2 separate regions of the Homo sapiens genome follow, and region 2 is linked to region 1. A link means that fine-mapping ties the variant in region 1 to the expression of a gene that starts in the linked region. Tissue or cell type: blood mononuclear cells. Region 1 holds a variant in brackets; the other region holds the start of a gene. All regions are shown on one strand. Distances are from middle to middle.

What was found. PIP is the estimated chance that this variant, and not a neighbour inherited with it, causes the effect.
Region 2: it holds the start of STX19, and the variant in region 1 is fine-mapped to the expression of STX19 in blood mononuclear cells (TOPMed, PIP 0.99).

Annotation. Positions count from the first base shown.
Region 1 is chr3:94,057,167-94,065,355 of GRCh38, forward strand. It overlaps DHFR2 (dihydrofolate reductase 2), which reads right to left and starts at 5,750. Exons shown (of 2, transcript NM_176815.5): 1 at 5,580-5,750; 2 at 756-4,440. The coding sequence starts at 4,345. The coding sequence ends at 3,782. It overlaps NSUN3 (NOP2/Sun RNA methyltransferase 3), which reads left to right and starts at 5,895. Exons shown (of 6, transcript NM_022072.5): 1 at 5,895-5,972; 2 at 7,271-7,380. The coding sequence starts at 5,961. RefSeq lists an enhancer at 5,789-6,028. The variant G/C (reference allele first, on the strand shown) is at 4,099.
Region 2 is chr3:94,024,684-94,032,872 of GRCh38, forward strand. It overlaps STX19 (syntaxin 19), which reads right to left and starts at 3,914. Exons shown (of 2, transcript NM_001001850.3): 1 at 3,684-3,914. All of the region lies in intron 3 of ARL13B (ARF like GTPase 13B), which reads left to right.

The DNA.
Region 1 (8,189 bases):
ATATAAATATGAAAATTCATAAAACATAGTTTAGGAGTTATTCCATAAATTACTCTGAAATACTTCTTAAGACCAACTGACCTTATAATAAAATTGCTTAGATATGTAAAAATTTGTTTCCTGCCTAGAGGTACGTCCTTATTAAGCTGCTTGGTTCTTTAACGCTAACATTAAAAAAAGCACAAAAAACAAACTAATGTGATTTATGTTATTTGTGTCAGCTCAATGTCTTATGTCTGCAGTGGTTTAATTCAAGTTTGCTGCTAACAGTTTTTATTCCTAAAACTCAATGTAGAATTGTTTGTTCTTTGGTAGCTATTTGGGGTGCGGATGGGGAGTAAAATCCATTAACATTCTCATGATACACATATATTGATTCTAGATAGATTAAGAGGTTAAACATAAAAGATCAAACTATGAAAAGGTAAGGGGAGAAACAGAAGTGGCTTCACTCGGGGAAAAAATGTATAAGCCTGAAAGCAGTGGAATCAATAAACTCAATTTACAATGCACAAAAAAAATTTTAAAATACCTTCACACTTAAAGTCAAATGGTTATAAGAAAAATTGAGAAAGTGTTTTAACATCTGACATGGTTATCTCAAATATAAATAAAATGATACTAAGACACCTATAGATAAGTGGACATGAGCGGTAATCTAAAAAAGAAATAACTAATAAGATTTGAAAACCTACCCAAACTAAGGGCATAATTAACTAGGCATTATAAGGAGATTATTAGAGATTCAGACAAAATTCATAAGCAAAGTTGTTTATTTAAAATCAGAAAATATAAAGATGCTGAGTCCCAAAAATGTGATAAAATTAATATGACCTCTTTCCAAGTATAACACATTGCCTTTCTCTAACAGAAATAAACTATGATTCTTATTACAGTCTTAAAATTCTTTTTTTAATGAATGAGTGTAACTTTTTATTAAGATAGAATTATTTTTATTAAAGAAATATATGAAAATGGTTAAGTAAAATCAAATGGCTCCAAAAGTCTTACAATGAAAACAGTCCTGCGACTTGTTCTTTCCAGAGGAAAGCACTTTTCATTCTCTTAGTTTTTCCTTCTGGTAGTTACCTCCATGGGTTTTAAAAAATTACTATTTTTTTAGTTTTTCAAGTGAATACATATATTAATACATGTAATCTTTAAAAGCCTCTTCAGTTTATAATGCATCCTAACAGTCCCCTGCCCCATCCCTCCTAATTCTCTGGAGCAATGACTTCTAACTCTTCTAGCAATGTTCCATTCTTTTCTTCACATAACTACTTAGTCATTTCTTGATTATGTTATACATTATATAGTGATTTCTTGATATGACAGATGAGGATTTAGCTCTTACACCATCACTATCTTCACTTTTCCCCCCATATTGTCCCAAAGTAGTTACCAGATTTAGGGGCTAAGCAGTCAGTCACCACATCATTATGACTATGTACATATTGCCCATTGTTGAGAAAAACAGCGTATGATGCTCTTACTTCCTATCCTGTACTTCTTCCTGCCCTAGAATTAATTATTGCCTAACCAACCCTTCCCCCTTGTTTTTTTTTGTTTTTTTTTTTTTTTACTTTTGCTTTATCTTCAATGCACTTCTTTCCAAATGCCCCAAATCTGGCAATAACCTATTATTTTTAAGAGAAGGGATCTCACTATGGTGGCCAGGCTGCTCTGAACTCTTGGGCTCAAGCCATCCTTTTGCTTAGCCTCCTGAGTAGCTGGGACTACAAGCATGGGCCATCCCACCCAGCTAATCTATTAGTATTTTTACTGTTTCTTTTTAAAGCTAGCTCCATAGCTGGAATATTGCCTGTGTTGGATACTATTTGCTGGATCCACGTCATTCTCTGGTTTGTGTACGCCTTCATTTTGCTGGAGTATTTTCTCCGATAGCTTCCCAAGAAAGGGTACATGTAACCCCTGAGTCTTTGCTTGTCTAAAAATGTATTATTTTACCTTCACCCTTGATTCTTTGCCTGAATATAGATTTATCAGTTGAAAATAACTTTATAGAATTCTGAAGGCATGGTTCCGTTGTTTTCAGATTCTTTTTTGAGACAGGGTCTCTTCTGTCACCCAGGCAGGAGTGCAGTGGCAAAATCACGACTCACTGCAGCCTTGAACTCATGGGCTCAATTGAATCCTCCATCTCAGCCCCGTGAGTAGACGAGACTACAGGTGTGTGCCACAATGCCCAGCCAATTTTTGTATCTTCTGTAGAGACAGGGCTCCACCATGTTGCCCAAGCTGGTCTCAGGTGATCCACCCACCTCAGCCCCCCAAAGTGCTGGGACCACAGGCGTGAGCCACCACTCCTGGCCAGTTTTTAATTCTCTCTCTACTTCTTTCATTTCTCAAAGGCATCTCAAACTCAGTGGGCCCAAAACCAAAGTCAAACTCCATCAGAATATCCTGCTACTTCCAACTTTAAAATATATCTTAAATCACAATTTCTTACCACATGCAATCCTTTGGTTCAAACTACCATCATCCCTCACTTGAACCTAGAATTGGTTTTCCTGCTTCTGTACTTTTTTAAATTATAAAATATTTCAAATAAACCATGTGTGGCTTTATACTTTTTACTAAAAGAATGAAGATCTGCCAAGTGCAGTGGCTGATGCCTGTAATCCCAGCACCCCTGAAGGCCGAGGCAGGAGGATCACCTGAGGTCAGGAGTTCGAGACTAGCCTGACCAACATGGAATGTCCCCACCAAAAATACAAAATTAGCCTGGCGTGGTGGCACGCGCCTGTAGTCCCAGCCACCCAGGAGCCTGAGGCAGGAGAATTGCTTGAACCTGGGAAGGCTGAAGTTGCCGTGAGCCAAGGTTGTTCCATTGCACTCCGCCTGGGCAACAAGAGTGAAATTCTGTCTTAAAAAGAAAAAAAAAAAAAAGTATGAAGAGTTTACATACTTAAACATGGAATTGCTTTAAGTGTTTGGCATTCACCGTTCCCGTACATTACAGCAGCTTCTTTCAGCAAACACCTGGAACTTGCTATTGAGTAGGTGGAGTACGTTCTGCCCACACACAGGACAGGGAGCTGACAACCAAGGAGTGGGGGTTAAATACTCTAGCTTTCTCCCCTCCGTTTCCCTGTATCTCAGCAGTATGGAGCTCGTTACCATTGAGAACCTCCTCACTGATTTTGAACTGGTTTTTACCTTCTCAGTTCCATTTCTCCATACTTCGATTGATGACTTCTGGTATGACCTAGCAAATAAACTGCTTTCACTTAAATTTCAGTCTTGGAATCTGCTTTGGGTTCCCCAATCTAAGACAGAAATATATTCATTTTCCCATCACTGGACTTCCAGGTTGTTTTCAGTTTTTCACTGTTACAAAAAAGGCTGCAACATTTGTCTACAAACCTCTGGATATACATGTACGAAGCTTTTGGTATTTCCTACTAGTGAAACTGCTCAGCTGAAGGGTATGTGCATCTTCATCTTTAATAAATACTACCAACATTAGAAAAGCCTGACAATGTCAAGGAGTGGCAAGAGTGCCACATGTGATGGGTGTGGAATGGCAGCTCACTGTAGCAGGTGCTGGGGACTCAGTCGGGGTCTTGGAGAGACAGTTATAGCAAGAATGTTTCATAAATGGTATCTGATATAGCCAAGATTAGTGAGGAATAAAAACACGTTGCTTAGAAATAATTATCCATAGATCTGAAGTCAACAAAAGTCCCTTTTCTAATGTAAAAATGCATACTTTTCTCAGAGGGAGGGGGAACAACTTAAACCAGAAAACACCTTCATATTAATCATCCTTCTCACATACTTCAAATTTGTACTTGATGTGTTTCCCCTCCTGGACATCAGAGAGAACACCTGGGTATTCAGGCAGAAGTTTATATTTCTCCAAGTCAATTTCTGAAAAAAACGTGTCACTTTCAAAGTCCTGCATGATCCTTGTCACAAATAGTTTAAGATGGCCTAGGTGATTCATGGCTTCCTTATAAACAGAACTGCCACCAACTATCCAAATCATGTCTACTTTATTTGCTAATTCTGGTCGTTCAGTAAGTTTTAAGGCATCATCCAAACTTCTGGCAAGAAAATGAGCTCCTTGTGGAG[G/C]TTCCTTGAGTTCTCTGCTGAGAACTAAATTAATTCTATCCTTTAAAGGTCGATTCTTCTCAGGAATGGAGAACCAGGTCTTCCTACCCATAATCACCAGATTCTGTTTACCCTCTACTGAAGAAGTTGTGGTCATTCTCTGGAAATACCTGAATTCATTCCTGAGCGGCGGCCTGGGCAGGTCCCCGTTCTTGCCGATGCCCATGTTTTGGGACACAGCGACGATGCAGTTTAGCAAAAGAAACATGACAGCAGCGGTTAACACCTCCGAACTTGCTGGCTACGCCAGGAAGCCAGGCCAAGAATGCCGCGAAATTCCCTTCTTCAAATTTTTTTACGTGCCTACATTGCAAATACAATACCACTGTATTAATTAATTGCAACATTCTGGAATGAACATAGAAAAATAAATTATATAAAATATATTTATAAAGTATAAATTTATAAAATATTTATAAAATATAAATTTATAAAATTATAAAAAATACAGAGGCTGAAAGGTTAGACCGACTTTTCCACAAACATTAAACAGACGGCATCCAAGAGATGGCATCATTTCATTCCTGATTATCATAGTCTTTTGTACCAAATCTAAATTCTAATAAGATGCATTTTTTAGGTGACTTGGAAACTTGTTTAAATAAATAAATATATTAAGCTTCAAATCAGATTAGAAGGAAAGACATGTTTTTACATGAATATAAGACTTGTACCTATAGCATGTACGTATATTGATATGAGCATCAAGGAACAACTCAAAATGATGATTATTAACTATCAGGGACCATATCAAACCGGTTTTTTCTAATTGCTGATTGCTGCTACAAATGATAGTTACTGAAGCATGACACCAAAAGAGCAAATAAACTTCTATTCGTGTCAAAATAGGTGTAATAAACATCTTCCTTGGAGAACCATTAAACATTGCTCCCTTGTAAAGGTGAATTGGGGAGGCTAGAGTGGAGGGTCCTTTTGGTCTTCACGCATTTGGTATCAACGCGACAAAAATCACAATGATCACAATAGTGAAAATAATAGCAGCTAACATTTGGGCATTTACTGTTTCCTAATCACTGTTGTAACCGCTTTACATGCCTACTTCAGTTTAACACTCTCCATTAAAAGGAGAGATTATCCCCATGGGCCAGGTCTGGGGAAAAGCATGACTTAATTTCTTTTTCATTATATTCCACCCTTTTATCCTTGGGTACTGAATGTCTAGGTTAACAGGGGTCACTAGATTTGGTAGATTAAGTCAGTAACTAGCTTCGCTTTGAGAATATTTTAAATCAGTCATCATACAACATAACCCCAAAACTCATTCCTTTATTGAGCCCCATGCATATACACACTGTTCAGCACAATATGCGACTTTTTATTTATTTTTGAGACAAAGCCTCGCTCTGTCGCCCACGCTGCAGTGCAGTGGCGCGATCACGGGTCACTGCAACCTCAAACTTCTGCCCAAGCGATCCTCCCACCTCAGCATCCGCAGAAGCAGGGGCCGCACAGGCGCGCAGATGTGTGACTTTCTAAGGTCCGGCCGCCCAAAGCTACGCCGACCAATCCAAGTAGCGAAAGTCGCTTTGGCCCTGGCCCGTTACCTCCGCGTCCTGGGAAGTATCAGCCTTTACCAGCTACCGGAAGTAACTGCGCACGAAATCTCCCGCGGGAGCTAAGCCTCTTCGACAAGAATTCTATAGCGCGAGCAAATCAGTATCTCGCGAGAAATTGAAGAGGAAACGTGAGAATGAAAGTGGATGCCCGCGAATCCCGGAAGTCAGACTGTTTTTTTCAGTTCCCTGGAGGCTTTTTGATACTGATTCGCGTACACCTGTTGTTTGAAAGCTCTCAGCGGGACAATGCTGACCCAGGTGAGACCTGGGGCCCGGCTGGGTACCTCTATCTGAATGAGACGCTTCTGGACGCGGCCGAGGTGGCGAGGGAGGGTGCTGGGATGGGGGAACATCACCTTTGTTCGTCCCCTCGCGAGATCAGCGTTTCTTTGGCTTTACTGTCAAGCCCTGAAATAATGCTGAGTGCTGTAATGCTGAGTCCCTTCCGTCCAGCTCGCAGACTTCTAGTACCCACTCCCTCCAGCTCTTGGAGGGCTGAGATTTGTTTTCTGTGTCACAGCGGTATCCCGGGAGCTTAGAACAGTGTCTGTTACATAGTAGGCATTGAATACACGTTTCTTGGATGAATAAATGAAACAATTGCAAGGAAGTTCACGATGAAATTGGAGTGACTTTTCTCCCTAAATTAACTTTTCACTTTAAAATAACGTTGCAAAGATAGTACAGAGTTCTCAAATACCTTTCACCAATTTTTCTTGATGTCAGCATCCCCGGTGACTTTTTAGTTTTGTTTAGATACAAGTTCTTGCTCTGTCACCCAATCTGGAATGCAGCTGCTCCATCATAGCTCACTGTAACCTTGAACTCCTGGGTTCAAGCGATCCTCCAGCCTCAGCCTCCCTAGTAGCTAGGACTACAGGAGCAGGCCACTACGCCTGGCTAATTTTTTTTTTTTTTTTACTTTTTGTAGAGACACGTCCTTGATATGTTTTCCAGTCTGGTCTTGAACTGGGAAATGATCCTCTCGCCTCGTCCCTGCAAAGCATGAGCCAGCTGGAGTACAGTGGCGCGATCTCGGCTCACTGCAACCTCCACCTCCTGAGTTCAAGCGATTCTCCCACCTCAGCCCCCTGAGTAGGTGGGGTTACAGGCGCCCACCACTACTCTCGGCTAATTTTTGTATTTTTAGTAGAGACGGGTTTCCCGTGTTGGCCAACCTGGTCTTGAACTCCAGACCTCATGTGATCCTCCCGCCTCTGCCTCCCACAGTGCTGGGATTACAGGTGTGAGCCACCTGCCTAGCCCCTACAGTGACTTTTTAAAATTAATTTTGTTCCTTTTGACAGTTTCTTCAGCCCCAGTAGATTCTGTTTTAACCTTTGCTTCACATTTGGAAAATAATTATTTGGAAAAACCTTGCTTTTTCATAATTAGATAATGTACAGTTTTGGTACATGTAAGGTATTGCTTCCATTTCAAGAACTAGTAATTATCCAAAAAAAGTGTTCTTGTCTTAAAAAAAGACCTTGCTAATGTTGACGTTCAGTAAATTTGTAATATCACTGTGTGTCAGCAACTTTTTCTTATCGTCATAGCTGAAAGCAAAATCAGAGGGGAAGCTTGCAAAACAGATTTGCAAAGTTGTGTTGGATCATTTTGAAAAACAGTATTCCAAAGAACTCGGAGATGCCTGGAATACAGTAAGGTTAGTATAATTCATCTCGATGCTTTATGATGGAACAAAGTACAATATGTAGTCCTCCTTTTTGTGGGAGGGATGCTGTGAGGTTAAAAGGCAAAGGAATCTAAATCTGGTTGCCTTTTCCTACTGAAGCTATAGAAAGGAACAACTAAGAAGAAATAGAATGAATCATAGCATGTTGGAAAGGGGAAATAAAACTTTGTCGGGATGGTAAGCACAAATTGTTACGCCTTTGCTTTGAGCAATTACTTTGATCCTTGAAATAGGAATGCCCACTAGTTTGACAAAATTAATTATACTGTAAAAGAAAAAAACATAAAATTTGGAATATTTGACTGATTTCTGAAATTTAGAAGATAATACAACAAATCTTTAAAGCCAGCACTGCTTTATCTCAGCCAAAGGTACACTTTATTTGGTAATCATATTTCTTTCCTATGTCGATGGCTGGGTATATTTTGAACACGTGCATATACACACAAAATTATTTAAATATAAAAATAAGGAATGTTTAATGCATGGAAGTGGGAGAAATGTGATTTGTCTGTTTGGTAAGATGATGTTAATGTATGGATTACTGTATGGGTTCTTGACATTGAGTGCCTGATACACTATATAACCCTCTCTGGAATACAGAGCAAGACAGTCTGCATGTCCAGTTTACATGCCGTCTAGTTAGTGTTAATGGGAGAAGTGAGGAGATGGGTGTGGTTACAACTATATAAACTAATTTGTAAATACTGTGATCCAAGTATCTAACAAAGCCTGAGGGTGCCAGCAAAGGCCTGAAGGGAAGCTGGGTCTTGGTGACT
Region 2 (8,189 bases), 32 kb before region 1:
CAAGTGATCCTTCTCCCTCAGCCTCCCGAGTAGCTGGGACTACAGTTGCATGCCACTGTGCTTGGCTGATTTTTTAAAATTTTTTGTAAAGATGAGGTCTTGCTGTGTTGCTCAGGCTGATCTCTAACTCCTGGGCTCAAGCAATCTTCCCACCTCCGCCTCCCAAAGTGCTGGGATTATAGGCATGAGCTAGTGCACCCAGCCTCTTTTTTAAAAAAATTAGAAATAAAGTAATCAAAAGCCTTTTTCTAAAGCATCATAGTTTAAAAATTTTTAAGAAATAGACTATTTCAAATTGCTATTGGAGCACAGTGTACACAGGCCTCTGGGAAGGTGAATTTTCCTGTGAAGTGCCTTTGAGAAGGTGCATTTTACTGCCACTGATTTTGGAAAGCAGGATATTTGAGTCTGACCTCTATAAAGGTTGTTTTTTTCCTGGATTTTTATCCATGTAATATCATTCCCTGAACATGCACCACACTTTTATATTTGAATAAAAGGTACTTTAAGGAGCCCTTTAAAATATATTAATATGTCCTTTTTATTAATCTTAATGAATTTACAAGCAAAAAACAAAATATCCTTTTTTTAATATCTGTATACATTATTGATATTAAAGGCAAAACATGGAAATAGAATCAGGTTTCCTTTCAGTGTTATACATCATGGCAATGCGTATTATGTAAACGATGTTTAAAGTGAGCTATAAAGGTTATACTGTGTTTGTCTTGGTTTATGGATCCTATGCCTGTATTTCTTTTGAACATTTAGAGAATATTTATGTGAAAGATCCTTTACATTATTAGGTTATTTCTAGTTTCTTAGGAGTAAATTCCTATGTTTGCTGTGGCCACGGACTGGTGACCACTCTGTTAAATGTGGGCAAGTGTATTTAGTGAAATTCGTCAGTAGCCTAGCTTCATTGGGGAGTTATACAAGAATGCTCTGAGTGTCCTGATCAATTATGGATACATTGAGGCTATTTTTTTGATTGTCACTACCAACGCCCCATGGAGTTTGCCCCTTGTAGCCCAGGTAGTATTATGTAGGCCTAATTTTTCTCTAGTGATTTTTATAGCCTAAGTGGATATCTCACTTCCTGCTATAATCCTGGGCAAGTCAACAGAGTTATTCCTGTCTTTGTATACAGATTATGTTGTATTATTCCTAGTTAACTGTTTCATCTAGGAAACTCAGTTTTAGTTCCCTATAATGCAACAAACTCTAAACCTCAGCTTTAAGGTAAAGTATTTGCCCAGTGTAATTAGCTTTAATTACTACTCTTCACTTTGGCTTTAAGTATGTTTCCTCATCATTTCTGGCACCTGAAAACTTCTCTTTTTTTTTTTTTTTTGAGACGGAGTCTCTCTCTGTCGCCCAGGCTGGAGTGCAGTGGCACCATCTCGGCTCACTGCAAGCTCCGCCTTCCGGGTTCACGCCATTCTCCTGCCTCAGCCTCCAGAGTAGCTGGGACTACAGGCGCCCGCCACCACACCCGACTAACTTTTTATATTTTTAGTAGAGATGGGGTTTCACCGTGTGAGCCAGGAGAAAACTTCGCTTTTTTACTCTAAAATTTAGTGATGTTGTTTTAAAATTTGTCTTTTTTAAACTTACGATTACATCAAATTCTGTATGTTTAGAGAAAGAGGGAGTAACTTCTGTATCTGTGCATTTTGACTGAAAGTCACAGTTGCTTATCTTTATAGAATTAACATAATTGAGAATGTTTCCCTAAATCCTTGTTCATCTGTGTAGAAATTGACTTGATAGGTACTCAAATATGTTTATATGCTGTATATAAATTACATTTTCTAGTAGTTGCATACTCATAACTATATGTATAACTATCCAATTTATTGATCTTATATCTTCATGAATTAGAATGTTAGGCAAAATGAGACAAATAAGCATGTTAGAATTTAAAACATGCAAGGACAGGATTCATATAAGCATAAAATATGAAGCTCATAGTTGTGAAATCATTTAATTGCTTAGACTAGGTGAAATTGATGAAATTACTATTTTATGCAGTCTGTTATGTACCTTAAATTTATTATGTTGGAAGAGTTATATACAAATATGAATCATCTTTTATTATGTTTAACTTGCAGCATTGCTATACAGTTTTGAATTTTACTAGCAAGAACTGTATCTGTGAGCTTAAACATGATATTTAAAAAAGAAAGAACACTAACTCGTATGTATGATAATCAACTTGGACAACTTGTTCTGGGAAATAGAAAAGTAAACTGGTGCGACTCAAATAAAAGGTTCTCTGCCCTATTACAGACACTGAAAATCCCTAGAAACAGAAACATGAGTAAAAATTACCTTGTACTTTTAGAAATATGCCCTGGGATAGATACTTAGTGTATTTATAGATTTTTTTAAAGTAGGCCATTTCTTTTCATAGTTACTGTAATGATTAAATAAAACATTTCAAGAAATATGACCAGTTTTTACCCAAGAGAAAACAGAATATTCTGTTGCTTTTGTATATGAAGTCAACTTGCCACATTTTTCTAGTGCAAGTGAAAGCAGAGGATCTTATTGTAATATATTAACCTCTTTGGCTACTAAAGTGAGGGCCAAATAGTAGTTTCTAAAAACTAAAAAAAAATTGCAAATTGCATATATTGTCTAATTTTGAAGTATCTGACTTTTTTTGCAATGTAAACTTTCAATGCTTTTTTCTACATTTTATTTAGTCTAAATAACTTATTGAATTAACTTGTATAACAACATTAAGATCATTTTTGTTTAAATATGATGTATAATTTTTGAACTTTTATCTGATTCAAGTAAGCTGTACATACATAAAATGATTTTTATATTACATTTAAAACTGCATAGCTGTGAAGATAATGTGTTCGAGGTATTACGTGGCCAATTCTCAAGTCCACCTTTAAAATACATATAAAAGTCATTATTATTTTGATTTGAAATGGAATATTTATTAAATTCTAACATAGTAACAATTATAACTTTGAAAGTATCTAACCTATCTACATATGTTGTATTTAAATGATGCTGATTTAAATTTTTCAAACTATCAATTAAATGCTAACACTTACGTTAAATGGTATAACAAGTATTTTTAATGTACTAGTTGAAATATTATAAAGGTTAGTGAGTACTTCGATATTTTCTGGTAGCCCTTTCACAAGATTATTTTCTCATTTTTTCAATTTTAGAAGATTCTAGTAAACAACAATGAAGCAATTAAGACCATTATAGCAAATTATTTCAGATTTTTAAGGTTATACGTATGTGTCAAATTTGGGTATAAGCTGCTTTTCAGAGTGAAATATAAAAATGTTCTCTAAAGTAAGCACATTCATAGTCTGTCTATAAAAGAAATAATTTTAGATCTGTTTTTACATCTGACTTTCTAGTATTTTTTAAATGAGAGCTTACTTTTTAAAAGACTTAAAAATTTTTTCTTTCCTCTAAAGTTGATTTTTATTATCGTAGTCTATTTTCAAGAGCTTTATACCCAGATCCCAGTCAGCATGTCAGTAATATATGTGAACAAATCAGCTACTGGTACCCCGGTCCAAATCTGAGCAAAACAAGTAACCCTCATTATTTGTTGAGTGATTTTTAAATGTAACAGTGTAACCAGATGTCAGTCTATGGATACCTCATATTAAAAAGTACAGAAAAGAGTCATTATTTACCTTTCTGTTTTCTTCCTTTTGTTGGTTTTCCACCTGCGGTGTTGGAGTCCTGCCTTTGAGAGAATATCTGAATATCATCTCATGTTTTGAACAAATTATCTAAATCTCTGTCTTATAGGGCACAGACTAATTTCTGTATAGTTTTCATGTTGTTAATTTGAAAGCCAAATAATGAAGTCAAATAAGAGATAAAGTTGTACGTTTGCTGTTAATAGCAAGTGAAAATAGATTGCTTACTTCACACCTGGAGAATCTGGTTCTGCCTGTTAGACGCCTATTCTTTAGATTAAAGGAAGATCATTTTCATTGGAGCTAGTCGGTAACAGGAAGTCCTCGTTAAACTGCCTACGTAGAGTATTTGGCACTGGATCTGCAAATTTAGTCCTACATTGTATATGTAATATATTATTCCAAGAAAATGGGTTTGTATTTAAACAAAGGTTACTTTCTTTTCTATAGATATCAAAACTTACTAAAAATATGGAATTAAATAGGAATGAAAAGAAGCTTGGTGTAAAAGCTTTTTTTGTTCCATTTACTTTAAAATGGTTGAAATCTGTCCTATTTTAGGAAATCCCAAAAGAGCTTAGCTCACAAAATCATAGAATTTCAGAAGGAGAACATCCAGGAAAGAGCTCATGTCTGTAAACCATTCATCCCACGTTACTTTTAATTTTTTTTACTTTTTATTATGCCTGCTGTTTTTATTTTAAAATAAATTTTATATAGAACTAAAGTTATCCAGCAATATATGTTAAATCATTTATTTTGTCAATATAACAACTCAAAATTAATTTATACCAGAGGGAAATGTTTATAGGAAGAATTAAAAATGAAAATTTCTCTTGTACTACCAAATTTCAGACCCATTTTTTCTACCTGACTTGTTACTATTTGAGGGCAAGAAGAAGGAAATTGCTGTATCTATCAAAATCATATATATATATATATATATATATATATATATATTTATTTTTTTTTTATTTTTTTTTTTTTTTGAGAAGGAGTCTTGCTCTTGTAGCCCAGGCTGGAGTGCAGTGGCACGATCTTGGCTCACTGCAACCTCCGTCTCCCGGGTTCAAGCAATTCTGCTGCCTGAGCCCCATAAGTAGCTGGGATTACAGTTGCCTGCCACCACGCCCAGCTAATTTTTTTGTAGAAATGGGGTTTCACCATGTTTGCCAGGCTGGTCTCGAACTCCTGACCTCAGGTGATCCACCTGCCTCAGCCTCCCAAAGTTCTGGGATTACAGATGTGAACCACCATGCCCGGCCAATCACATTTATATTTATTCTTTGTTTTAACAGTTCTACTTCCTGGAATCTGTACTCAAAATAAGAAATGACTCCTTTACACACCTACTTTTTATAGCACTCTTTGTAAAAACAAAACACTGGAAACACAAAAGTCCTTCAGCGTAGAACTGGCTGAATAAATGATGGAACATTCAAAGGGGAGCATTTTGCAATTATAGAAAATAGTGAAGATTTTATTATACTGCTTCAGGGTACTTCAAAATTTACTGTTCAGTTAAAACAAGCATGCTGCAGAAGAATATATATAATATGCTAAGTTTTAGGAAGAAAGGAAGGGTAGATATAAATATTGTATATATACACAAATACATAAACCAGTCAATAGCATTGAATATTCACAGTGCCCAAATTATGGTCCTTGAAATACCATTTTCTCCATACGCTTGTTTATATTTTCAAAAAGAAATAATGGGAGGATGAACTAAACACGAATGAAAATGGTTACCTATAAGGGAAGGGAAGGAAAAGGCAGAGAGATAGCAAATAGTTCCTTTCTGATTGTACCTTGTTTTTATAGTTCTGAATTTAGAACCATATAAATATTTTTTTATTTTTATTTTTTGAGACAGGGTCTCACTCTGTCACCCAGCCTGGAGTGCAGTGGCGCGATCTCGGCTCACTGCAACCTCTGCCTCCTGGGTTCAAGCGATTCTCATGCCTCAGCCTCCCGAGTAGCTGGTATTACAGGTGCACGCCACCACGCCTGGCTCATTTTTTTTTTTTTTTTTTTTTAGTAAAGACAGGGTTTCACCATGTTGGCAAAGCTGGTCTTGAACCCCTGACAAATGATCCACCCACATTGGCCTCCCAGAGTGCTGAGATTACAGGTGTGAGCCACCACGTCCAGCCGATATAAATATTTTAGAAATTAAATCTTAAAACAAATACACAAACGATCTCTAAAATGCAAAAGCACCTAGAAAGAAATGAACCTAGGTATATATCTAGGTGATGGCAAAACCACACAGAGAAGTACTATTTTAAGTAATTTTAAAACAGTATTATTGACTCTGCATCTCTAGTGGGATATAGCGTAGAGACAAAGATACGTAACCACAAAGATATGTTAACCTGCACTTAGTAGTCTTAATATTTAGTAATCATATTGATATTATTATGTTAAAATTCCTATATATAGTTGGATAAAACAAATAATGTCATTAGAAACTGTAGTTTTCAGCATAAGTAAAAAGAGATACAAATAAGATCTAAGGCTGGGCACAGTGGCTCATGCCTGTAATCCAGTACTTTAGGAGGCTGAGGCAGGAGGATTGAGCCTAGGAGTTTGAGACCAGCCTGGGGAACATAGTGAAACCCCATCTCTGCTAAAATAATTTTTTAAAAAAAGAACGTTCGAACACTAGCTGGGCATAGTGGTATGCGCCTGTAGTCCCAGCTACTTGAGAGGCTGAGGTGGGAGGATGGCTCAAGCCTGGGAGGTAGAGGCTGTAGTGAGCTGTTGTCACACCTCTGCACTTAAGCCTGGGCAACAGAGTGAGACCCTGTCTCAAAGAAATAAACAAAAACAAGATTTAAGAAGCTAAGTAAAACTTGGTAGTTGATTTGAAATGAAAAAATCAACACGAATACATGGTTAGATTTTTTTTTTTTCTAGAATAAAACTATTTCCTAGCTTTGTGCACTGAAAGGGCCTAGAAGCAGTAGTAAGTCAATAGCAAATGTTTATCTATAACTCCTAGGTTTTAGTCTTTAAAATGCCATTTTCCACTGAAAAGATCAAGGCTTCTTGGGGAAATGGATGATTGCAAGTCTGGAACCTTGTTTCATAGTAGAACATAAAGAAGCTATCAAAGACTGTTGGAGTTGTACCAAAAGGGTCCAAGAGCCAACCTGAAGGGGACTCCTGCTGCCTCAAAATGGGTACCTTTGAGCCTTAAAAAGAGCAATAACTGCAACAAATTGAAACACATCAAATACATTTTTAAATCCATAAGTTCATAATGATGCCTCTCAAAATAAGAAAAAGTACCAAAAAGCCTGAATAGCCAAAGCAGTCCTAAGCAAAAAGAACAAAGCTGGAGGCATCATATTATCTGACCTTAAATTATACTACAAGGTTATTGTAACCAAAGTAGCATGGTACTGGTATAGAAATAGATGAATAGATCAATGGAAAAGAATAGAGAACCCAGATGATGGGTACAGCGATGCTAGGAAAATTCAATTGCCATATGCAGAAGAATGAAACTGGAACCCTGTCTCTCACCATATACAAAAATTAACTCAGGGTGCATTAAAGACTTAATGTAAGACCTGAAAAATACTGGAAGAAAACTGATGAAACTCTTCTGGACATTGGTCTAGGCAAATAATTCATGACTAAGACCTCAAAAGCAAAAGCAACAAAACCAGAAATAGACAAATGGGACTTAATTATTAAGTAAAAACTTCTGCACAGCAAAAGAAGTAATCAATGGAGCAAACAGCCTGCAGAATGAGGGAAAATATTTGCGACCTCTTTATCCTATAGGAGACTAATAACCAAAACTTACAAGGAAATCAACAACAAAAAACAACCCCATTAAAAATGTGCAAAAGACATGAATAGTCATTTTTCAAAAGAAGACATACAGATGGCCAACAAGCATATGAAAAAAATGCTCAATATGCCTAATCAGAGAAATGCAGATTAAAACCACAATGAAATACCATCTCACACCAGTCAGAATTTTTAGCTGTTACTGAAAAGTTAAAACATAGCAGATGTCTGCGAGATTGTGTAGCAAAAGGAATGTTTATACACTCTTGGAATGTAAATTAGTACAATCACTATGGAAAACAGTATGGAGATTTCTTTTTTTTTTTTCTTTTGAGACGGAGTCTCGCTGTGTTGCCCAGGCTGAAGTGTAGTGGCGCGATCTCGGCTCACTGCAAGCTCTGCCTCCCGGGTTCATGCCCTTCTCCTGCCTCAGCCTCCCGAGTAGCTGGGACTACAGGCGCCTGCCACCACGCCCGGCTAGTTTTTTGTATTTTTAGTAGAGATGGGGTTTCACCGTGTTAGCCAGGATGGTCTCGATCTCCTGACCTTGTGATCCGCCCGCCTCGGCCTCCCAAAGTGCTGGGATTACAGGCGTAAGCCACCGTGCCCGGCCAGTATGGAGATTTCTTAAAGACCTAAAAAAAGAACTACCATTCAGTCTAGCAACCTCACTACTGGGTACCTATCCAA